Linked DNA regions of Homo sapiens: region 2 is linked to region 1. The links come from fine-mapping of genetic effects on gene expression. A gene starts in region 1. The other region holds a variant in brackets. All regions are shown on one strand. Distances are from middle to middle. Region 1 holds the start of ZNF385C (zinc finger protein 385C). Region 2 overlaps ZNF385C (zinc finger protein 385C).

What was found. PIP is the estimated chance that this variant, and not a neighbour inherited with it, causes the effect.
Region 2: its variant is fine-mapped to the expression of ZNF385C in anterior cingulate cortex (GTEx, PIP above 0.99). The same link has a PIP of 0.9 or more in amygdala, aorta, atrial appendage, breast, cerebral cortex and esophagus mucosa.

The regions. Positions count from the first base shown.
Region 1 is chr17:42,093,051-42,104,641 of GRCh38, forward strand. It overlaps ZNF385C (zinc finger protein 385C), which reads right to left and starts at 5,423. Exons shown (of 9, transcript NM_001392013.1): 1 at 5,360-5,423. It overlaps DHX58 (DExH-box helicase 58), which reads right to left. Exons shown (of 14, transcript NM_024119.3): 12 at 10,558-10,748; 13 at 9,166-9,262; 14 at 8,361-8,896. The coding sequence ends at 8,711. RefSeq lists an enhancer at 11,353-11,591.
Region 2 is chr17:42,031,858-42,043,448 of GRCh38, forward strand. ZNF385C (zinc finger protein 385C) reads right to left here. Exons shown (of 9, transcript NM_001392013.1): 3 at 5,880-6,028; 4 at 2,368-2,478. C17orf113 (chromosome 17 open reading frame 113) reads right to left here. Exons shown (of 3, transcript NM_001358661.2): 2 at 10,977-11,591; 3 at 6,375-9,332. The coding sequence starts at 11,519. The coding sequence ends at 7,848. Among named protein-coding and RNA genes, the nearest start is that of C17orf113, 13 kb to the right of the region's middle. The variant C/T (reference allele first, on the strand shown) is at 5,955.

The DNA of each region.
Region 1 (11,591 bases):
TCCAATAAACAAACAGCCAACACAGCCGCTCCTGTGCAAGAAGCCGTGGGAGCGATGGGGAGGCCACAGAGGTGGGGAGGCCAGGAGAGGGCAGGGAGGCTGTTTAAACAGGCCCCTCGGCCTGGGGCAGTTGGCAGAAATATTTGGAACAGGGTGGGGAGCACAGCTGTGGTTTGGAGCAGGAAGCTGGGGCCCGGGGTGGGTGGGCTGAGCTTGACTGCTTCCAGGAGAAAGAAAAGTGTCAATTCAGCCCCACTCTGGTCAACGCCTCTTCTGAGGGAGACTCCAAGTCCCAACACCCTTCCCTCAGTTCAAGGTCAATCAGGTCAACCAGACAGACAAGGGGCTCTATCCCTTATCTCCCAGAGTGATGACTCTGGACCCCCAGCCCTGCTCCCAGGCCTATGACCCTGGGCCTCATCACTGAAGAAAGTTTCAGAGTTCAGAGCCGAAACCCCGGAGTTCTCAACAGAGGAGTTAGAGGAGATGAGCCATCAGCTCTTTATTTTTTTTACTTTTTATTTTATTTTATTTATTTTTTTTTTTTTGAGAGAGGGTCTCACTCTGTCGTCCAGGCTGGAGTGCAGTGGCACGATGTTGGCTCACTGCAACCTGTACCTCCCAGGCTCAGGCAAATCTCCTGCTTCAGTCTCCCGAGTACCTGGGATTAAAGGTACCCATCACCAAGCCCGGCTAATTTTTTGTACTTTTTTAGCAGAGACGAGGTTTCACCATGTTGGCCAGGCTGATCTCTAACTCCTTGACCTCAAGCAATCCACCCACCTTGGCCTCCCAAAGTGCTGGGATTACAGGTGTGAGCCACTGCACTCGGCCCATCCACTCTCCCTAGGACGTGATATTCCCTTTCCTGCCGCCTTGCCTGGCAGTGGAGGAGCCCAGAAGTGATCGTGGCCCCCTGGGAGGCATTATCACCTTTTTTTTTTTTTTTTGAGATGGAGTTTCACATTTGTTGCCCAGGCTGGAGTGCAATGGCGCAATCTTGGCTTTCTGCAACCTCTGCCTCCCAGGTACAAACGATTCTCCCACCTCAATCTCCCAAGTAGCTGAGATTACAGGCATGCGCCACCGCGCCCAGCTAATTTTGTATTTTTAGTAGAGACGGGGGTTCACCATGTTGGCCAGGCTGGTTTCGAACTTCTGACCTCAGGTGATCCACCCGCCTCAGCCTCCCAAAGTGCTAGTATTACAGGCGTGAGCCACCGTGCCTGGCTGTCACCTTCTTTCAGGACTCTTGGCTCTCCTTTTGCCGAGACTCCTCAAGAGACTAAGGCAGAGAGTCAGAGGGATACATGTCCAGACTGACAGGCAGATATAGAGAGAGGTGAAGATACAGAAAGACCCACCCAGAGAGATAGCCACGCAGTCAGACACTGAGAGTGGGAGTGTGAGAGAGAGGGACAGAGAGAGAAGGGGTAGACAGAGGAGGCAGAGAAAAAGGAAGAAGAAAAGACATAGAAAGACTCACAGAAAAAAGAGCTAGACGGGTGGAGAGGAGAGACAGAGATAACAAAGGACAGGGTCAGGAGAGGGGAAAGGACACAGATGGGGAGCACACAGGAGGCGCAGGGCCAGACACACTCACAGGCCGAAGCAGAAAGAGGCTCACGAGAACTACACAAGGACAGACAGCCTCAGGACCCAGAGACACTCTCCTGGGAGACGTGGGGGGAGCCAAAGTGCTTGGGGGTCGAGCCCCACTGGGGGTGGCCTCACCAGGGCAATGCTGCTGCCTCCTGTCCCAAAAGCTTAACCAACCGCTGCCGGCATCTGGCCCCCAGCCACCCTCTAGTAAGCCAGCCCTTGGCCACTGGAGCCAGTGGGTCACCCAAGGTGAATGAAAAGTCACCAATAAGGGACAGTGAGAGTGTGACTGGGGTGAAGGTATGGGTGTCACAAGCCATGTGTGTCAGGGTGGGTCTGACCTGGGGTGGGGTTTAGGAGCGCACAACCCTATACACAGACCTCTGGGGGTTAGTGCAGGCGGGCATGCGTACCTGAGTGAGTTTGTGAGTGTCTGTACACGTGTGTGGATCCAGTTCCATTAAGAGCCTCACGATGCTAATGAGGCCAACGTGGCAGGCTGTTCCTCAAATAGCCCAATCAGAAACAATGAGTGAGCAGAGACAGCCACAATAAAGGTTTCATGCCTCTTCTGAACAGACGGTGTGTCCAGGTGCCACAGGGCACTTGACTACAGTCAACACCAGCGTACCATTCATTCCCGCTGGGGATGACCCCCGCCGCCTGGCCAGCTGACCCCACAGTCTCCCCTGTCCCAAGCCCAAACTCCAAACTCATGGGAGAACCCACATGATAGACACATGGGCCCTCCCGGGTGGCAGGCGCAGCTCCCTCTGAGAAGGGCAGCCAGAGGGATGGTGGGGTCCAACCCTGGCTTTCCCCCAGGCTAGCTTCCATCCCTCCTGCTGCTGCGGCCCCATTTAGCTCTCTCCTTGCTCCTGGGGTCCAGTGACCCACACCCTCACCACACACAGGAGAGAAGTAACCTCTCCTCCCCAGCCCTTCCCTCTCAAGCATCACAGGACATTAAAAAAAAAATTGTCCCAGTTTTGTGGTGGATAATGAGGTCAGGAGGCCCACAGGGGAACTGCTTGTTGATGACAACTGACAATCTTCATTTCACCTTGAAACTCCGTCCTGGTCCAGGTAAGCATGTTCTAAGCCCAGTTTTATAGGGGTGCTACTCTACTGGGGGACAGGGAGAGTGGGGAAGGAATTAACCAAATGGCAGCTGAAGTCACAGGCCCAGCCAGGCCCACCTGGAACACTCACAGGGCCTGGGGCAAGGGGACAAATGGCGGCCCACAGACATATGTCTAAATATTTAAAAGTTATAAATCAAGCCAGCAAACTGTGAAATATGTTCTAACCTCTCACCCTGACAAATACACCTTCATTAACAACCTGGAGGACCAGATACAAATTTGGATTTATCTGCCTCCTGAGCTTTACACATCAGAATGACTCTGTGCAGAGGAGACAGCTCCACTCGCACCCTGGCCACCCCCCTTCCTGCTGCCGGGTCCTGTCTGCACCACAAGGGACTCTTGTGCATGTATAAGGACACCCAGCCTCATGTCCTTGCTCCATCCACAGCCCCTGCAAATAGCTGTCCCTTCACTGTCCGTAGGGGTGCACACACTATTGGCATAACCTGTCCTGAGGCAGACAGGCCCAGGGAAGAGGCTGGCATGGGCTGGGAGCCAGATGGTGACCATCTAGGCAGGGACCTCCAGAGTCACAGGTATGGAGAATGTGGTCTTGGAGGGGACTCACAGTCTCATCCCCTCGGCCCTGCTGATGCCTCATCCCACAGGGAGAGGACTGGCAGCAGGAGGGCCAGAGTGGAGCCTTTGAAAGCCCCCAGCTTAGGGCATGGGCACTCCCTCCCTTGCCCAGGTTTAAGGGTGCTACTGAACTCAGCCTTCCCTGGCAGCCTAGAGATCAGGCCAGGGCCTGAAGCTGTCCTTTCACTGGAGGACAGCTTGGACAATCCCCAAACAGGACTTTCAGTCACTCGTATTATTTATCTTCCTGGAAAAATTTAGTGCGGCTTGATCCCAACTCCTGGAGGTGGGAGGGCAGAGCAGTGATGACAAGAGGGCATTTTTTTCAGGTTGGGTCTCCAAGCCAGAGCTTGTTCCACTGAGGCACAGCCCAAGTGAGCTCCTGCTGGTACTGGTCCCTGCCTTGGGCGGGGGCGGGGGGACTCTCTCCCCTCTACAGAGACAAAAGGCAACACAAACAAGGTGACTAAAAGAGGAGGAGGTGAGGGGCCCTGGGCAGCCCAGAGAGGTCCAGAGATCCAGGAACCAGCAGGGGGCAGGTTCCCCCTGGTAGGGGGGCATGCAGTGAAGGGCACTCTTTCTAGCCAAGCTTAGCTAAAAAAAAAAAAAAAAAAACCCTTCCACTCCCCCCTCCCCTGCTCGCTCTCACTCCCTGCAGATCGGCTTTGCTGTCCCACACATGAGGGGACACTGGTACTTTCTGAGCCCTCGCCAGGCTCCAGGCACTGTGCTAAGCGCTCTACATGTGTACCCTCATTTAACCCTTGCAGCCACTCTATGAGGTGGGTTCTATTATTATCCCCATTTTACAGGTGATTAAGTGAACTCAAAGAGGTTAAGAAACTTGTTCAAGGTCACGCAGTAGGTAGAGGTGTCAGAACTCAGCTCTAACTGACCCCAAAGCCCCCACTCTTTCCACTAGAGCACATGGCCTCCCAGAAGCAAGAAGCTGGCACAGACCCAGAAGGGATGAAGGTCGGATATGAGAACGAACTTCTGCCTCTGATGGTTTGTGTGGTGAAATGAGGCAATGGAATGGGGAATCTAGACAGACAAGGAAGCCCCCCTCCCCCCATTGTCACCCGTGTCTGTCCAAAGGCTTGCGATGATCTCAGGAAGGTCCCTGGGGTCCCAGCTGGACCCAGACAGCAATGTCCTGACTTCCCTTTGTTCTATAATCCAGGGTCCTCTGCTCTACTTCAACCCAGCACCAAGACCCAAAGGCTGCCTCTCCTTAGTGGCTCAGAGCTCTGAGCATCACATTCAAGCTGTCAGCCCAGGTCCTCCTCCTCCAGGAAGGCTTCCTCGAGGTCCTGGGAGGCAGGACCCCTTTCCTACAGCCCAAATCCCAACACTGAGGGTGCAAATGCTCCCCTGTCTGCAATAAGGCCACATCTGCGATCACCTTCCCCAGCCGGCTCTGTGACACAGACACAGAAAAGATCTACTGAGTTCCCAGACTTTCCGGGTTCCCTAGGCCATCGGGGTAATCCCCTGCTCACCCCCTTGTACCCAGATGTAAATAAATGATGCAGGTGCCCTGGGGCTCATTAGAAAATCCCAGGCCCCAGCTCAGCTATGCGGCGGCTTTTACCTCATTAGCCCACGGAACAGAAGCCCAGTTTGGGTCAAGCCATCACCCCCTAGGGTGGGGAAGAGGCTGCCCTTGGATGAGGCATGGCGCACTCTCAGTCAACGAGGTTCCTTACTCCGGACCCCCGTCCTCACCATCCCCAACCTGCCCCACTCCAGAAAGCTGCGTGTCTAATGCCCGGCTCTTTCTTTTCCATCCTTTGGAGCCCGCCTGGCATCAGGGATAACCAGCCAGGACCCTCTAACTGCCCCAGAGTTCAGTCCCGCCCAGCAGATGCCCAACGTCGGCGCTCAGAGCCGAGATAGGGATATCCTCACTGTCCCTTGGGGTCCCCCAATTTTGAGGCGAGAGGACCGGACAGGTGGAAGAGGCTGCCTCGTTCTCCCGCGCTGCCCTCGAGGTCCTCGGCGTGGACTAGCCCGCGTCGCCGTCTTACCTGCGGGGCAGAGACGGAGCCCGCCGCGGCCACCTGCTCTCGCCTGGCTGGGAACGCTGCGTGTGGGGCTGGCTGGGAGGGGCGGGGCCCGGCGGGGCAGGGGCGGGGCTGGGAGGGGGAGCCGGGCCGGCCCCTCCCTCGAGGCCCCGCCGGTGGGGTGCGCGGGCTCATTCAGGTGGGAAGTCCCGGGAGAGCATCTGAGCCACAGGGAGGGCCCGGAGCTCGAGTTCTGAAGGCTGGGAAGTTAGGACTCCAGGGGGTGCGGGGGGTGGGTGGGAATTCCCCGCTTCAGACAGCCTCGCCCAGATGCCCTGGAGAGGGTGACTTCATATAAAGACCCCTCACACGAAGAAGAAAGCTCAGAAACCTCTCCTGGCCTGAGTCCCCTTCCATCTGAGCTCTTCGGGCCTGGCAGGGTTGGGTGTGAGACGGGACACTCCTCTAAAGTAAGGGTGCCCTCTCCAGGGCTCAGCTGTGTAGGGGTTTAGGCCGCTGAGGGGGCCATTAGGCAACCAGACCATCTTTATCCTCAGCCCATCTCCCTCCCTGCCACACAGCCCCTCCTCCGCCCCCAGCGCCAGCCCAGGTCCCCCAGCTGTCACTGTTTAGCCCTGGAATGACAGGCGTCCTGACTCCGTGAGTCTAGCCACATTCAAGGCCTTTGAGCTTAGCACCCCTGAGCCCCTGCCCCCTCCCTCTGCCCCCAGTCGCTAATTTTATTGACCTGTAAAAGGCACGTTGCTGGCAGGCAGTATACTAACTGAAGGCAAAGTGGGGAGCGGATGGGCAACTCTCCCCCCGGGAAGGCAGCTGGAGATGGGACAGGAGGGAGGAGGAAGGAGACTCCTGGATCCAGGGCCAAGGACACTTTGAGAGGAGGAAGAGGGGGGCCTTGGGAAAGAGAAGTACACTGTCTATGGGAGATGGTAGCCAAAAAGACGGGAACGGGAATTTCAGCCCTCAATCAGACAAGAGGCCTACAGAAAAAAGAAAATGCTGGGAGAAGACAGGGTGCATTTCTCATCTACCTGGGGACAGAACCAAGAATGTAGCAGGAGGGAAGGAGGTTGGACGGCAGGAAGGACTGCCATCCTGCTCTCAAATCTCTGCCCTAGCCCCCTCCCTTCCTCTTGAAGGTGTCTCCTGCCTGCTGGGCCTTGTACTACAGAAATAGCCCTTTCCCTGATGAAGCAACCTAGATCTTGCCTTTCTTTTTCTTTCTTGTTAAAATGAGAACAGAAAATTTAGGCCTTTGTAATTTTCCCCACCCCCGTGCCTACCTGAGCCCACCCCTCAAACCCTGGATCTCAGCCTTTCCCCAGCCTAGGGGAGATGATCTGAGGGTTAAGGGAAGGTGGAGAGGGGAATATCGGGGTTGGAAGCTATTATGGGGTAGGGGGAGCAGGAAGCCCTCACACTCTTGATGGGCCTCAAGTTTAGACTGTTGATACCCTTTATGAATAAGGCTTAGGAGGGCTATTAAAGAGGAGTGTTTAAAACTTCTTTTATTTTTTTATTTTTGAGATGGAGTCTTACTGTGTTGTCCAGGCTGCAGTGCAGTGGCATGATCTCGGCTCACTGCAAACTCCGTCTCCCAGGTTCAAGTGAGTCTCCTGCCTCAGCCTCCTGAGTAGCTGGAATTACAGGGGCCTGCCACTATGTGAGGCTAATTTTTGTAATTTTTAGTAGAGATGGGGTTTCACCGAAATGGCCAGGCTTGTCTCCAACCCCTGACCCCAGGTGATCTGCCCACCTCGGCCTCCCAAAGTGCTGGGATTACAAGCGTGAGAAAATGCGCCTGGCCTAAAACTTTTAACACTAGGTCAGGCACAGTGGCTCATACCTGTGATCCCAGCACTTTGGGAGGATCACCTGAGCCCAGTAGTTGGAGATCAGCCTAGGCAACATAGTGAGAACTTGTCTGTACACTGCCCCTCTACCCCCCAAAAATTAGGTGTGGTGGTATACATCTGTAGTCCCAGGTACCAGGGAGGTTGAGGTGGGGGGATTGCTTAAGCCTGGGAGGTTGAGGCTGAAGTGAGCCATGATTGTACTACGGTACTCTAGCTTGGGCGACAGAGCGAGTCCCTGTCTCAAAAACAAAATAAGAACAAAAACAAAAAAAAAAAGGCCGGGCCCAGTGGCTCATGCATGTAATCCCAGTACTTTAAGAGGCCGAGGTGGGTGGATCACCTGAGCTCAGGTGTTTGAGACCAGCCTGTTGGGCAACATGGCGAAACCCTGTCTCTACCAAAAATACAAAAATTAGCCAGGCATGGTGGCAGGCACCTGTAATCCCAGCTACTTGGGAGGCTGAGGCAGGAGGATCACTTGAGCCCTGAAGGCAGAGGTTGCAGTGAGCTGAGATCGCGCCACTGCACTCCAGCCTGGGCGACAGAGTGAGACTGTCTCAAAAAAGCCAAACACTTTTAACACTAAAAATTACAAAGCAGGTCATTGGATGGGGAAGGGTGAGAGGTATGGATTTCAATGGGGAACCAGGAAACTTTTGTTGTTCTTTGAAAATTCCACTGGAAGAAACAGGACATTTTGAGGGTGATGGCTATGTTCATTATCTTGATCGTGGAGGATATGCATGTTAAAATGTATCCAGGCCAGGGATGGTGGCTCACGCTTGTAATCTCAGCACTTTGGGAGGCTGAGGCAGGCAGATCGCCTGAGGTCAGGAGTTTGAGAACTACCTGGCCAACATGGTGAAATCCCATCTCTACTAAAAATACAAGAAATTAGCTGGGCATGGTGGCGGGCACCTGTAATCCCAGCTACTTGGGAGGCTGAGGCAGGAGAATCGCTTGAACTCAGGAGGTGGAGGTTGCAGTGAGCCAAGATCGTGTGACTGTACTCCAGCCTGGGCAACAAGAGTGAAACTCCATGTCAAAAAATAAAACAATTTTAAAAAAGTACCCAATTGCACACTATACAAGCAGTTTATTTTCTACCAATTATATTCCAACAAAATTAAGACACCACACATTTTCTATCCCATTTTTTCATTTATTTTTATGAGGAGCCTCAAAAAATAGAAGTGGCCTTGGTAGGGAAGGAATGTCGTGATTCTGAGTACAGTATGGCAAATTCTTTTGCCTCAGTTTCCCTAACTCCATCCAGTGCATATGAAAATGTCTATGTGCGTACAAGGTAGGTCTGGACTAAGCTCTGGCCCTCCGGTTGTTTTCCCATTGCGGGAGCCTAAGCCAGGGTGCCCAGGACTCCTGTGTGGCTGGTGGGCCTGATGCCCACAGCTGATGATTCAGGAAGGAGGGGCCTGGAGTCTGCTGCAGACTCTCCCGCCCCCTACAGCCCAAACCGGGCACTGCAGCAATGAGGTGGTCAGTCCAGGGAGAGGTCCGACAAGTTCTCGGCACAATGCTGCAGGAAGTCAAAGTCAGGCACGGAGAAGGGCACGCGGGACCACTTTTTGGCCTGGATCCGCCCCTGAGGGGTCTCCAGCAGCATGCTGCGGACTTTGAGCACTGGCAGCTTCACTGACTTGTAGATCATCTGCAGACCCCAGACCTGGAGGTGAGACAGAGAGGGTAGGGTCTGGGTCTCTGGCCTCAGACTGGGCTTCTCTCCTCAAGTTGGAATTCCCTGAATACAGGGCCTTTTCCTCCCACCTGAGATGTCACAGACTGTGGGCTCCCTTAGGGAGGGGCTGGACCTCCCTCTTCAGACTGGAGGCCATGGGGTGGGACTGTCTCCCGTGTCCTAGTGAGGGCTCCCTGAGGGCCTCTGAAGACTGGGGCTGAGGACTCTGGGGCCTGGGACGTGGCCTAAGCTCTTACCTCCCCACAGTTCCTGCAGCTGATGACACCCCCAGGCTTCCAGTCCTTGAAGACTTTGTTGATGACCACAGGATCCCTGGAGACATTATAGTAGTTCCTGGAGAGGAAGGGGGGTGGCCACAGCCCTCATTGACCCTCCTCAGCCCCGGATCTCATGCCCTCCTGCCGGCCAAGTCTCTGCCTGGACCTTGGGCCTTCCTGCTGGTTAAGAGGCACAGACTTCCCAGGCCAGGAAATCCAATCTTTGGTGAGTTCTACCTGTGTGGCCTCCATCGCACGTTCCCTTGTGCCCAGGTTCAAGCCTCAGCATCGGTTACCTGGTCTTCACAGTCTCCTTATGGGTCTCTCTGCCTCCATTTTTACTCCCAATCCCAAGCCATCCTTCCACCAACTGCTAGAGGGATCTAAAAATATAAATCTGCCCTGACATTCTGTTCCTTAAAATCTATCCAAGATTCCTAAGAGGAACCTCCTGGATAAAGGCTACACTTTCACACCTGACCTTTCAAATCTTCCACGGGCTAGTCTGTCTTTTTCTAAATCTCATTATTCACAGTCCCTTCCACTCAGGTCAACTGGTGTCGCTTTTTTTTTTTTAAAGGCAGAGTCTCACTCTATTGCCCAGGCTGGAGTGCAGTGGTGCGATCTTGGCTTGCCTCCCGGGTTCAAGTGATTCTCATGCCTCAGCCACCCAAGTAGCTGGGATTACAAGCATGGGCCACCACGCCCAGCTAATTTTTGTATTTTTTTTTAGTAGAGAAGGGGTTTCAATATGTTGGCCAGACTGGTCTTGAACTCCTAACCTCAAGTGATCTACCCACCTCCGCCTCCCAAAGTGTTGGAATTACAGGCGTGAGCCACTGCACCTGGCCCTCCATGGTTACCTTCTCATTCGCTCACATTCAAACCAGACCCATTGAGACCTAGCTGAAATGCAACCTCCTCAATTGAGAAAATCTGTGTGAAGATCCTTGGCACAGTGGCCCGGAACACAGAGGGTAACATAATGAATGGATGGAGGATGGGGGAAGGTTACTCTCTAGGAGATAGTGGATGGAGGATGGCCCAGGGATGGCCAAGCTCTCTTGATATCTTCGGAATAGGTAGGACCAGAGGGTCAATGTGTGGTCTTTTGACACTTAGTATCCTGAATTCCAGTTCTTGCTCAACCAGATAGTGGCTGTGGGAACTTGGGCAAGTCACATAGCCTCTCTGAGCCTCTATTTCCTTGCCTGTAAAATGGAGACAGGGATAAAACCTGTCTAACCAGATTATTGTGAAAATGCAAAGTACTTGCTACAATGCTCTTTAGCTTCCCAAAGCTTCAAAGCACTGTCTGGATGGGAAGGATTCCCAGGCCCCCATCCCAGTAGCCCCTTCCACAGGTCTCACGAGAAGTTGGGGTTCACATTGACATGGTGGGTGCCCTCCACCTTCCGCAGGTCGCTGCCATGGCCCACAGCCACCATGCAGTTGATGCAGAGTAGCTGCACGTGCTCCACTGGGAACTGCTGCCGCTGGTTCTCCCGCTGGGCTGCCTGGGCCGCCCGCTTGGTCAAGGCTGCCTGCTGCAGATCCCGGATCTGGGGTGGGAGGAGACACCAGGCATGGCTGGGGCCTAAGAGAACGTTCCTTGGGGGACAAAAGGTTCCCAAAGAACTAAGATCATTTGTACCTGGAAGAGACTTTCCTTAACCCTCCCTGGAGCTTAAAAGAAGCTCTATTGCTGTGATGATGCAGTAACTCATGCCTGTAATCCCAGCATTTTGGGAGGCCAAGGCGGGTGGATCACGAGGTCAGGAGTTCGAGACCAGCCTGGGCAACATGGTGAAACCCCATCTCTACTGAAAATACAAAATTAGCCGGGCATGGTGGCGCATGCCTGTAATCCCAGCTACTCGGGAGGCTGAGGCAAGAGAATTGCTTGAGCCCAGGAGGTGGAGATTGTGCCATGCACTCCAGCCTGGGTGACAGAGTGAGACTCCGTCTCGGGGAAAAAAAAAAAAACAGCTATGGAGAAAAACAGTATGAGTAGTCGGGGGCAACAGTGGGAGGGGTAAGCTTTCCTGCTCAATCTTGAAGGACTTTAGGCAAAGCTGCTTCTGTGAATCTGTCATGGGGCATCATTAACAATTATGCTGGGACAACAGGGAGCACCCTGGACAAGGCAGGATGGTGGTGGCCCTGCCTCAGGGGAACTGATGATATAAGTCCTAGTTCTGGGCTTATCTTCTGCACGTGGACTTATCTTGTCCCCTCTGCCTGGTTCCAGAAAGGCTGTAATGCAGCTCTTCCAGATACATAAAGTATCTCATGGCAAAGATAAATAAAGAGCCTTGGACAAGGCCTGTTCCCAAGGCCTTCTGGAGTCCAGGTACTGCCTTCCCTGGCAGCCCCACCCCGGCCCTTATTTAAACCTTCCCTAG
Region 2 (11,591 bases), 61 kb before region 1:
CAGGGGGACAGGTCAAAGGGAGGCAGGGCTCAGGTCACACAAAGGGCAAGTCCTTGTCCTTGTCATCATCATCACCATAGCACATGTGGCTCTGAGGTTTGCAGAATGTGTTCTCGCACATGAACTCCAAGGCAGGCTGCCTCTGGCTTCAGATCTGACCCAGCCACTTACTAACCACATCTTTTTGTTGTTGTTGTTGTTGTTTTTGTTTTTTGTTTTTTGAGATGGAGTCTCGCTCTGTCGCCCAGGCTGGAGTGCAGTGGCGCCATCTCAGCTCACTGCAACCTCCGCCTCCCGGGTTCAAGCGATTCTTCTGCCTCAGCCTCCGGGGTAGCTGGGACTACAGGCGCCCGCCACCACACCCGGCTAATTTTTTGTATTTTTAGTAGAGACGGGGTTTCACCATATTAGCCAGGATGGTCTCGATCTCCTGCCTCGTGATCCACCCGCCTCAGCCTCCCAAAGTGCTGGGATTACAGGCGTGAGCCACCACGCCTGGCCACTAACTACATCTTTAGGCAAGTAACATCTCTCTGAGCCTGAGTCTCCTCACCCATAAACCCTGTGATGATAATACTGACCTCATGGGGTTGTCAGAATTACATGGGAACATGAATTACAAGGGCCGAGTACATAGAGTAGGTGCTCAATGAATGTTAGTTATCAAGTGTATCAATGCACAAATGGAGAAAGCAGAGCAATCCCCACACTTTGGGGTGTATGTACCCCAGAACATTCATCCCTTTGTTCATTTGTTCAACAAGTCATTACTGAGCATTTGCTATTTGCCAGGCACTGTGCCCGGGGTCCGGCAGGAAGAAGAATGGTTCCTCCCTCAGAACGAATTCTCTCCTCCATCTTTTTTTTTTTTTGAGACGGAATCTCGCTTTGTCACCCAGGCTGGAGTGCAACGGGAGCAATCTAGGCTCACTGTAACCTCTGCCTCCTGGGTTCAAGCGATTCTCCTGCCTCAGCCTCCCGAGTAGCTGGGATTACAGGCACCTGTCACCACAACTGGCTGCTTTTTTTTTTTTCTTCTGTATTTTAGTAGAGATGGGGTTTCACCATGTTGGCCAGGCTGGTCTCTAACTCCTGACCTCAAGTGATCCACCCACCTTGGCCTCCCAAAGTGCTGGGATTACAGGCATGAGCCACCACGCCCAGCCTCTCCTCCATCTCTTGCAGGACTCATGGAACCAGAAGGCCTGAAGGGAATCCTCAAATCTGGTCTGTCAGTGTCCTCCCTCCAAGGGTCCTCACTTGCTGCTCCCCGGCCCACCTCCTTGAAACATGGGAAAGACAGGCCCCCATGGCCCCTCCCTGGATGCTATACCACAGCAGTTCTGCTGGCATCCAACCGAAACCCCAGATTGCCTAACAGGAGGTAGACCTTCCCTGGGAGGCCAGAATGAGGTTCCTCCTCTACCTAGTGGTAAGATGTAGTAGAAAGGGGTAGGCTGTAGTAGAAAGTCATAGACCTTGGGGTCAGCCAGGCCTGGATTCATATCCCAGCTTTGCTACTTACCAGCTGTGTGGTCTTAGGCAAGTCACTTAACCTCTCTAAGGCTCACTTTCCTCATCTGAAAATCGGGGATTATAATAGCGCCTCTAGGCCAGGCGCGGTGGCTCACACCTGTAATCCCAGCATGTTGGGAGGTTGAGGTGGGTGGATCACTTGAGCCCAGGAGTTCGAGACCAGCTTGGGCAACATGGTGAAACCCTGTATCTGCCAAAAATATAAAAAAATTAGCCAGGCGTGGTAGCACATGCCTGTAATCCCAGCTACTAGGGAAGCTGAGGCACAAGAATCACTTGAACCCTGGAGGTGGAGGCTGCAGTGAGCCAAGATTGCGCCACTGCACTCCCGCCTGGGTGACAGAGTGAGACCTTGTCTAAAAAAACAAAACAAAACAAAAAAATCCCGCCTCCACCCGTCTCACAGATGTATCATGAAAACTATTATTTAAGGGGATGGGCATGATCACATTCTGTAAACTCTCAGGTGCCTTAAGAGCTCAGCTCCAGACCAGGAGCTGATGAGATGGGCCACTGGGACCTGGAGTGGAGGAAGGGCAGTCTTCTCTCTTGCAGAAGGATCCAGAACACAGGAGAGAGGCCTGGGGGGAAGGAAATGGAATCCCACTGGGCTACAGCTGGGCAGAAGGGGAAGGGGCAGAAGAATCTAGAGAGAGGAGAGGATGCGATGGTTAAAGGACCAAGAGTGCCTCTTCTGCAGCCAGGGTGGAAAATACCGACCACAGCCCCTTTGCCACTGATATTCCTCCCAGAAGGACTCTGAAAGCCCAGCCTCCAGCCCTCTCCCTGCCCAGCCCCCTCCCCAGACCTGCTTTCACTACTTTGTCTCACCGCTGAGTTGAACCTCAGGTGACAGATGTTACAGGAAATGAACAGCTTCTTCTTCAGAGGGGAGGGGACACCAAACGTGTGGCTGATGACAGCTTTCTGGACCGGGTCCATCTGTGAAGGGAGTGGGAGGGCATAATAACTCTGGGGTTGGCTTGGGAAGCAGGGGTCGGGGGCAGCACAAAATGCCCAAAACTAAAGATGACTGAAGAGGGCCTTGGTCAGCTTCTAGGAAGAACTTTTCCATCCTGTGGATGTTGGAAAGAGAAACAGCTGGGCCAGGCGCGGTGGCTCACACCTGTAATCCCAGCACTTTGGGAGGCCGAGGCAGGCAGATCACCTCAGGTTGGGAGTTCAAGACCAGCCTGACCAACATGGAGAAACCCCATCTCTACTAAAAAAAAAATACAAAATTAGCCAGGTGTGATGGCGCATGCCTGTAATCTCAGCTACTCGGGAGGCTGAGGCAGGAGAATTGCTTGAACCAGGGAGATGGAGGTTGCGGTGAACCGAGAGCAGGCCATTACACTCCAGCCTGGGCAACAAGAGCGAAACTTCGTCTCAAAAAAAAAAAAAAGAAAAGAAAAAGAAAAAGAAAAGGAAAGAAAGAAGAAGAAACAGCTGCCTGGGTGCAGTGGCTCACGCCTGTAATCCCATCACTTTGGGAGGCCAAGATGGGTGAATCACCTGAGGTCAGGAGTTCAAGACCAGCCTGGCCAAGAGAAACTCCTTCTCTACTAAAAATACAAAAATTAGCCAGGTGTGGTGGCACGTGCCTGTAGTCTCAGCTACTCAGGAGGCTGAGGCAGGAGGCTTGAACCTCAGAGGCAGAGGTTGCAGTGAGCTGAGATTGCGCCACTGCACTCCAGCCTGGGCAACAGAGTGAGACTCTGTCTCAAAAAAAAAAAAAAAAAAAAAGAGAAGAGAAAAGAAAAGAAAGGAAAAGAAAAGAAAAGAAAAATACACAGCCTCTCCCGGCTGTCTTTATTTGTCAGCCTAGGCTTCTGCTTGGAAGCAGGGGAATGGCCAGAGTGCCCTGCATGTTTCTGGGACATAGAACCATGTCCTGGTGATCACCTTGGCATCTCTTGGTGCCCCTTAGGTCATTATTTTTGTTTTTTGTTTTTCTCCTTTGCAATAATTACAACTATTGGGACAGAGAGTTGGAAACAAGGAGAGGCAGGGAAGAGACAAAGAACTCGTCTGTTGGAATTTCCTCTCCCATCACCCAGGCTTCATGCAGGGACCTGTGGGCTGGGGGAAGATAAGTCCTATCTCATCAGCTCTATCACTGTCACAGGGCCTGAGGCTGCTGACGACCTTTTTTTTTTTTTTTTTTTTTTTTTATAAGATGGAATACTGCTCTGTCGCCCAGGCTGGAGTGCAGTGGCATGATCTCAGCTCACTGCAACTTCCACCTCTCAGGTTCAAGTGATTCTGCTGCCTCAGCCTCCCGAGTAGCTGGGATTACAGGCGCCCACCACTACGTCTGGCTAATTTTTGTTATTTTTAGTAGAGACAGGGTTTCACCATGTTGGCCAGGCTGGTCTCGAACTCCTGCCCTCAAAATGATCCGCCTGCCTTGGCCTCCCAATGTGCTGGAATTACAGGTGTGAGCCACCGTGCCCAGCCATGACGACCTCTCTTGAGAGAGTGAGAGCCACAGCCAGGGGAGGTGGGGGGCCAGTAGGGGGCAGGGAGCAGCAAGTGGAGGCCTAAGGTTCCCCAAGGAGTAGGATCGTTTCTTTGGAATATTAATTTGGATTTTTTTTCTTTTCCTTATTATTTTTTTGAGATGGAGTCTCCCTCTTGTCGCCCAGGCTGGAGTGCAATGGCGGAGCCAAAATCTTGCAACCTCCGCTTCCTGGGCTCAAGCGATTCTCCTGCCTCAGCCTCCCAAGTAGCTGGGACTACAGGTGCCCACTACCATGCTCGGCTAATTTTTGTATTTTTAGTAGAGATGGGGTTTCACCATCTCTGTTGGCCAGGCTAGTCTCAAACTCCTGACCTCAGATGATCAGCCCACCTCAGCCTCCCAAAGTGCTGGGATGACAGGCATGAGCCACTGCACCTAGCTTCTTTTCCTTATTTTAAATCATTTTTTTCTTCTATAGAATTAAGGCTTTATGTTCCCTTTTCTCAGGAAGTTGGGCCAAATGCAGCTGTCTGAACTTGTCAAGAACTTTCCAGGCTGGGCGTGGTGGCTCACACCTGTAATCCCAGCACTTTGGGAGGCCGAGGTGGGAGGATCCCTTGAGCTCCAGAGTTTGAGACCAGCCTGGGTAATATAGTGAGACCTCATCTCTGCTTATATAAAAATAAAATAAAATAAAAAAGGAACTTTCCAAACCTTCCCAAGAAAAGAAAACAGAGCTTAGAGAGAAGAACATGGGTGCAGAAACTTCCCTGAGAACAGAAAGTGGTTCAAATTTTCACAGCACCCAGGGCCAGCAAGGGGCTCAGGGGACAGGACCTCAGAGGAGAATGGCCTGCAGGGGCCCCCTGCAATTGGAACCATGCCATTCAACAGTGAGCCTGTCAGCAAGCGACAGCAAGGACTCAAGACCAGAGGACCACCCCCCAAATGCCTCAGACTCCTTAGGACCTCTGTCTAACTCTGGAGGGTGGGAGGGAAGGGATTCCTAAGTGTGACTGAGGTGGAGTTTGCCACCATCTGCTCAGGATGGGGCATGCCACACCCATGATTTCACTTGAGTTTTCAAAATTTAAAAAAACAGAGATGGTTGCTGATCCCTCATATAGTGAATTAAAATTCATATACTTGTTATGCACACGTGTACAAGGAAATGTACAGACTAGGACACACACACAGCACAGAAGCTTCAGGCAGTTACAAATGCTCAGACAAGCAGAACAATTCACACTCATGCACACAAAGGGCACATGACCACAGGTAAACTCACAATCACCCAAGCCACACAAAAACACGCATGCTCAGAGGGCAGATACACGCCAAACACACAAAAGACACAAGGACACAATAAACCCTCAGATTGTGCAGGCACATACCTTAATTACATAAAATTACCCATGCACAAAGAGTTGTTTACAAACACACGTTGGACACCAACACACAAACTCACATCCACATATAACATACAAAACCTATAGAAACTACAACAAAAAGGCACAGGTTACACACACACACACACACACACACACACACACACACACACACGTCATCCACAGGAGCGCCTACACAGAAGCTTAAGTGGAATGCACAGACTACAGGCCCTTGCAGGCCCAGCAGCTATGATGGTGGGGGTGGGGAAAGGGCTGACACCATCTTGTTCCCCAGCCTAAGAGAGAGCGGGTCCCTCTCTTAGGATCCCAAATAGGGGTCCCTATTTGGGGAGCACCTATCCCCTCTGGGGGATGTTGGAGAAAAAGCTCCTGGTTAGACCCAGCTGCTGAGAGCTGGACCCTCTGAACCCACCTTCTGTGCCCACCCACAAGCTTGTGTGCATGCCCCCACCCGCCAGCCCAGCCCATACCGTGCTGAAGTTGGGGAAGAGACTGAGCGGGGCAGCGCCATTGAAGTGGAAGGCGAGCAAGTGCTTGAAGTCCAG[C/T]GGGGGCTGCAGAGGCCGGGTGGGCAGGGGCAGGGAGGCCAGCAGGGGGCTGGGGGCGCCGGAGGCCGGGCCTGCTGCAGGAGGAAGAAGGGCAGGGTCTGAAATGGGCTCTGTCCTACCCCCGTGGCCAGAACAAGAGGCGGGTGGGCTTCTTGGGTGTGGAGCTGGGCAGAAACCTGTGTCTCTCTTCACAGAGTGGCACCAGCCAGACCCATAGTGATTATAGCCCCCTTCTCTGTGCCCTTCCTCCCCACAGCTGGGGAAGCAGAGGCAGGGAGTCCACAGTTGAGGCTCCCAGCCCAGAGGGATGACCCTCCTGCCCCTACTGAGGCAGCATACTGAACCCCAGGGCAGCCCAGCCAAGAGAGGGACAGAGGGGTCTGGGCAGGCCCTGACACACACACCACCATGGAGACTGCATGATGTGCTGGGATTCCATTTTATTGCAAATTAAACTCAAACCCAGGGGTATTAGGAAAAGGCTAGCCCTCGCCCCTCTCACTCTCTAACTATCCTCCCTCCCTCCAGATCCCCAGGATTTCATGGCCAGGGCTGACAGGAGGGAATGGGAAACCCATGGGCTCTGAAGGGATGTGCTCCCCAGCTCTGATGAGGCCTAAACTGCTTCCCCCAGGAGGTAAATAAGCCAACATTCCTGGGTTGGGCCTCGACGCCAGTCCTTGGAGGTGGCAGGTACAGCACTGTGGTTTTGCAGTCTTTGGTCTTAAAGGTCTGAGGCAAGGGCAGGGGAGGGGTAGGAACTTGGAGAGCAACTGGACTTTGAGGAAGAAAATATCAGAAAAAAAAAAAAATCCAGCCCATCTGGGGCTTTTTTCGACCCTGTCATTGCAAAACCAAAAGTAGTCCTTTTAGATGTTTGTGTGGTAACACTATGAAAGATAGCATAGATTTATTTCACATTTGTAGGTTTTTATGTCTATATACACAGTTATACACAGAAAAGGCCTGAGGCTGCCTATTGGTGAGGAGGGAAGGAAGGGAACCACTATCTCTCTGGAACCATTGGCCCTTGAACCACCAGCTTGTGTACAGAGAGGACACTGTGCTGTGTGTCAGAAACAAGCACGGTCATCTACTCCCCAGTCATAGCTGAAGAGAAGAGACACTGCCAGGAGTGGGGCTAAGAAACAGCCAAGGACCAGACGCAGTGGCTCATGCCTGTAATCCCAGCATTTTGGGAGGCCGAGGCAGGTGGATCACTTGAGGTCAGGAGTTCGAGACCAGCCTGGCCAACATGGTGAAACCCTGTCTCTACTAAAAATACATAAGTTAGCCAGGCATGGTGGCAGGCGCCTGTAATCCCAGCTACTCAGGAGGCTGAGGCAGGAGAATTGCTTGAACCCAGGAGGCAGAGGTTGCAGTGAGCCAAGATCACACCACTGCACTCCAGCCTGGGCGACAGAGCAAGACTCCATCTCAAAAAAAGAAAAAAAAAGAAAAGAAAAAGAAAGAAACAGCCAAGGACCAAGGACCAGTGTCCGTTCCCTCAGCCACTCAATTTCCAAGACCTAGTCTTCCTTCCCCAAGCCAAAAACTCCCATCTTTGGGGGGACCCAAACTTGCCCCGAGTCCAGAAGGGAAAAGGGTGAGCTACTCCTCATCTAACTGTGTAAAGGCCAGGAATGATTTAGGGTACCCCAGATCCTAGCATCTCTGCCCACCCGCCCAGGCCCCTCTTGAGCCAGTCCCTTCCTCCACAGCCCACAGGGTGGGGGGGGTTGGTGGGAAGCTCCAGAAGGGCGGGTGGATGGCCTCAGGCCCCTGGGAGGCTGCAGTCAGCAGATCATCTTGGGTGCAGCATGGTCAAGTCTAGGTTGGCCCTTACAGTGCCCAGGGCCCCAGGCTGGATGGGCCGAGGGAAGGAGGCCACCCTCAGGTGAGCTGCGACCCCAGGAAGCCCTCTCCCCACCCACTCTCTAAGAACTCCACAGCCAACCCGAAGTCAAACTCGTGCAGCGGGGGCCCATCCACTGCGATCTTCACCATGTGGCCCCCCCGGCCTTCCCCGGCCCCACTCTGCCCCCACCACCGCAGCTCCCGGCTGCGGCCGACCTTGTCCAGCAGGCCAGCGCCCGCGGGCAGCGCCAAAGCCAAGGCGGCTAGGGCGGCGAAGTCGGGGAAGAGCTCGTGCAGCTCCGAGTGCGCGCACGCCAGCTGGGTGCACAGGGCCCGCGGGCCGAGCCGCCCAAGGCCGAATACTACGCGCTTAAACAGCGCGAAGTCGCCCAGCGCCCGCTGGCGCACCACGGCAGGAGCAAAGCCGCGCAGCAGCACCCGCAGCGCCCCCTCGCCATGCGTGCCCAGCTCCTCCGGCGCCTGCGGGTAGCGTCGGGGGTCGAAGATCGCTGCGAAGGCGGCCACGGCGTCCAGCGAAGGCCCGGGGTAGGAGTCCTGTAGGCCCTTCCGCATGGAGTCCAGGAAGGATCCCCGGAGCCACTCCAAGCCCCGGACCGCAGCCTCGGAGTAACCGAGCAGCTCCACGCCGCGGTAGGTGCAGCGTCCGCTGCTGGCGTCAGGGTCCATGGATGCCAGTTCCTGCAGGAAGCCCTGGAGGCGGGCCCCACCTGAGCCGCGCTGAGCTTGGAGGGAGGCCGCAGCCGCCATCACCAGAGGCTGCAGCAAGGCCAAGTCCGGCTCTTCTGCCTGCAGGACAAGGGAGAGCTTCTGCACAGAGGGCAGGGCATCCAGCAGCAGGTGGGTGAAGGCCACGAAGGTGAACTGGCGCAGGGCCAGGGCCAGTGACCCCGCCACAGGTGAGGCAAGGGCTGCAGCCTCCAGGGTGGGCACCAGGCCAGGCCAGGCCTCGGCCACTGCTTCCACTACAGGCAGCAGGGAGGCCCAGGGCACTGGCCGAGGCCCTGCCAAGTCAATAGCTGCAAGGTCCAGTGCTGCCCGGAGCTCAGGGACCAAGTGGGAACTAGGGCCACCATGGAGGCGGAATAGGGCATCCAATATGCTCTCATATTGACCCAAGTAGGCCGGGGGCTCAGGATCTGTCCGGCCAGGGAGACAATGCAGCTCTGCCAGCAGTGGGCAAGTGGCCCGGAGCTGTGGGCCCACACTCCCCAGGCGCTCACTGGGGAGGCTTGAGCTGAGCCAGGCCAGCTTGGGTGCAGATACGCCGAAAGCCTGCAGGATGTCCAAGAGCTGGCCAGCAGTGGCCTCGCCCTCCTGTAGCTCCACACTGCCCAGGAAGGTGGTGGCGGGCTGGCCATCACAGGGGGACACTGAAGTGGCAAACAGGGCCAGGCTGTGTGACTCCGGCCAGTCTCTGGTCTCGTCCAACACCAGCCCCACATATGGGGATGCCTTCAGGCGCTGGCAGGCCTCTGTGTGCAAGACACTGGCAATGGCCACCTGGGACAGCCAGGGAAAGAAAGGGAGGGAGGACTGAGTTAGGCTTGTCCTGAGAGGCGGAGGCAGGCAGTGCGGGGTGGTGGAAAGAGCCCAGGCCTTGAGGTTAGACAGACTTAGGGACTAATCCTGGCTTTGCCACTTACTGGCTGTGCTACCTTCGGCCAGTCACTTCACCTCTCCGAGCCTCAGTTTTCTCATCTCTACAGCTCCTGGCCTGTCTAAGAATATCCTCCCACCCCGGCCTCCCACCACACCCGGTCTAGTTTTCTCAGCTCTTATACCTGCTGTCAGCTAATACCAGCCCGAAATCTTCTCAAAGCTTGTTGTGAATTATAAACATCAACTTTTGTTGTGGTAAAAGCACTTTATGAATCATAAAGAGCTCTAGGAAAGCTAGTTTTTTCACTGTGTTTTTCTATAGCATCATCCTAGTCTGCCCTATTCCTGGGGGTCTCCCTCCACTGTCCAGCTCAGTGATTAACTGATAGGCACACTCACTCCCAACTCCCAACCAGTCACCCTGGGTCCCAGCTGTGTGCTGTTTCTCTATTTGTCATCTCTGTAGGATGAGATCCAACTCCCCCACCTCCAACCCAGCCCATAGGACTTACACAGTTAGTACCTAGGACAGAGCTGCAATTTGCATGCTTCCAGGGGCCATGTGAGTGATATTGAGCTTGGAGAGGGCCAGGGATAAGCCAGAGGGAACACCCTGCTCTCCAACTCCAGCACATCCTGCTCTGAGAGCATGGGGACCTTGCTTTTCAACACAAGTCACAAATCTAGATTTTTATATGTAATCTCCTGAGTTTTTTAAAAGTTGAAACACATTCGAGTTTTTCAAAAACATTATGAAAACCAATTAAACAGGCTCAGCACAGAAAACAGCCCCAAAAGAAAACTAAGTCAAAAGTCATTTCCATTTCCATTCCAGCACTTTGCGGGGCCAAGGCAGGAGGATTGCTTGAGGCCAGGAGCCCAAGACCAGCCTGGGCAACATAATGAGACCCCATCTCTATGTTTAAAAAAAACCAAAAAACAAAAAACAGAGGCCAGGCGCGGTTGCTTACACCTATAATACCAGCACTTTGGAAGGCTGAGGTAGGCAGATCACCTGAGGTCAGGAGTTCGAAACTGGCCTGGCCAACATGGTGATACCCCGTCTCTACTAAAAATACAAAAATTAGCTGAGCGTGGTGGCACATGCCTATATTCCTAGCTAATAGGGAGGCTGAGGCAGGAGAATCACTTGAGCCAGGAAGGCAGAGGTTGCAGTGAGCTGAGATCACGCCACTGCTCTCCAGCCTGGGTGACAGAGTGAGATTCCTCAAGAAAAAAAAAAAAAATTAAATACATCTGTGGGTCAATCAAGCCTCCAGGCCACCAGTTTGCAACGTCTGATTTAGGCAGTGAGAAGAGTGCCCCTGTGCCCGCTAAGAGGCCTGGTCTGGCCTCTTCACTGTTGTATCCCTGCAGCTGGCCCAGGACCAGGGACATAGGCTCTCAGGGAAGGTTCTGAAGGGTGAAGATATGAATGAAATGCCCTAGCTGCTCCCCAAGGAGCTGGCATGCTGGGGCTGTTCCCAGGTGGCTCAGTGTCCTCCCTTCCCAAGCCCTTCCCCCATACTTCTGGCTGTCACCCACCTGCATGTCCCTCACCCTCCTGGGACTGTAGTAATCGCCATGCTCTGTGCCCAGCAGTGCCTGGCACAGGTTGAACCTCTGCAGCTCGAGCAGGGCAGAGCAGCGGTCATTGGGCACATCCTCCTTTGCCATGCAGTACACAGTAGTCAGCACAGCCACTTTGGCCGGGTCTAACTCCACCTTGACGCCCCTGGAGGCAGGGGTCGTAGCCAGGCCTGGGCAGGCCCCTCCACCTTCAGCCTGGCCCTCAAAAGGGGGCTGGCCCTGGTTGACAGCCAGAGCCTGGCGGTGGGCTCCTGAGGTCACGTGGCGCAGCAGGGCGTGGCGCTGGAAGTTGTCTGTGCCCACAGTGAAGGCGTTTTCGGCTTTGCCATGCTTGTTCCGTACCAGGGCCTGGCGGCACTCGAGGCAGAACATCAGCTTCCGCTCATAGTCAAAGTCCAGCCAGGTAAACTCCTCTTTCCAGTGCTCGTTGAAGTAACGCTTACACTTCTTGTTGGAGTTGGAGGCCTCTCCCGCTGGTTTCTTCCCTGGGGGCACCATTCTTGCTCTCTCAGCAAGGAACCCCCAACCCCCACCTGAATGCTCTTGCCCCCCTGCCTCCCCCACACACAG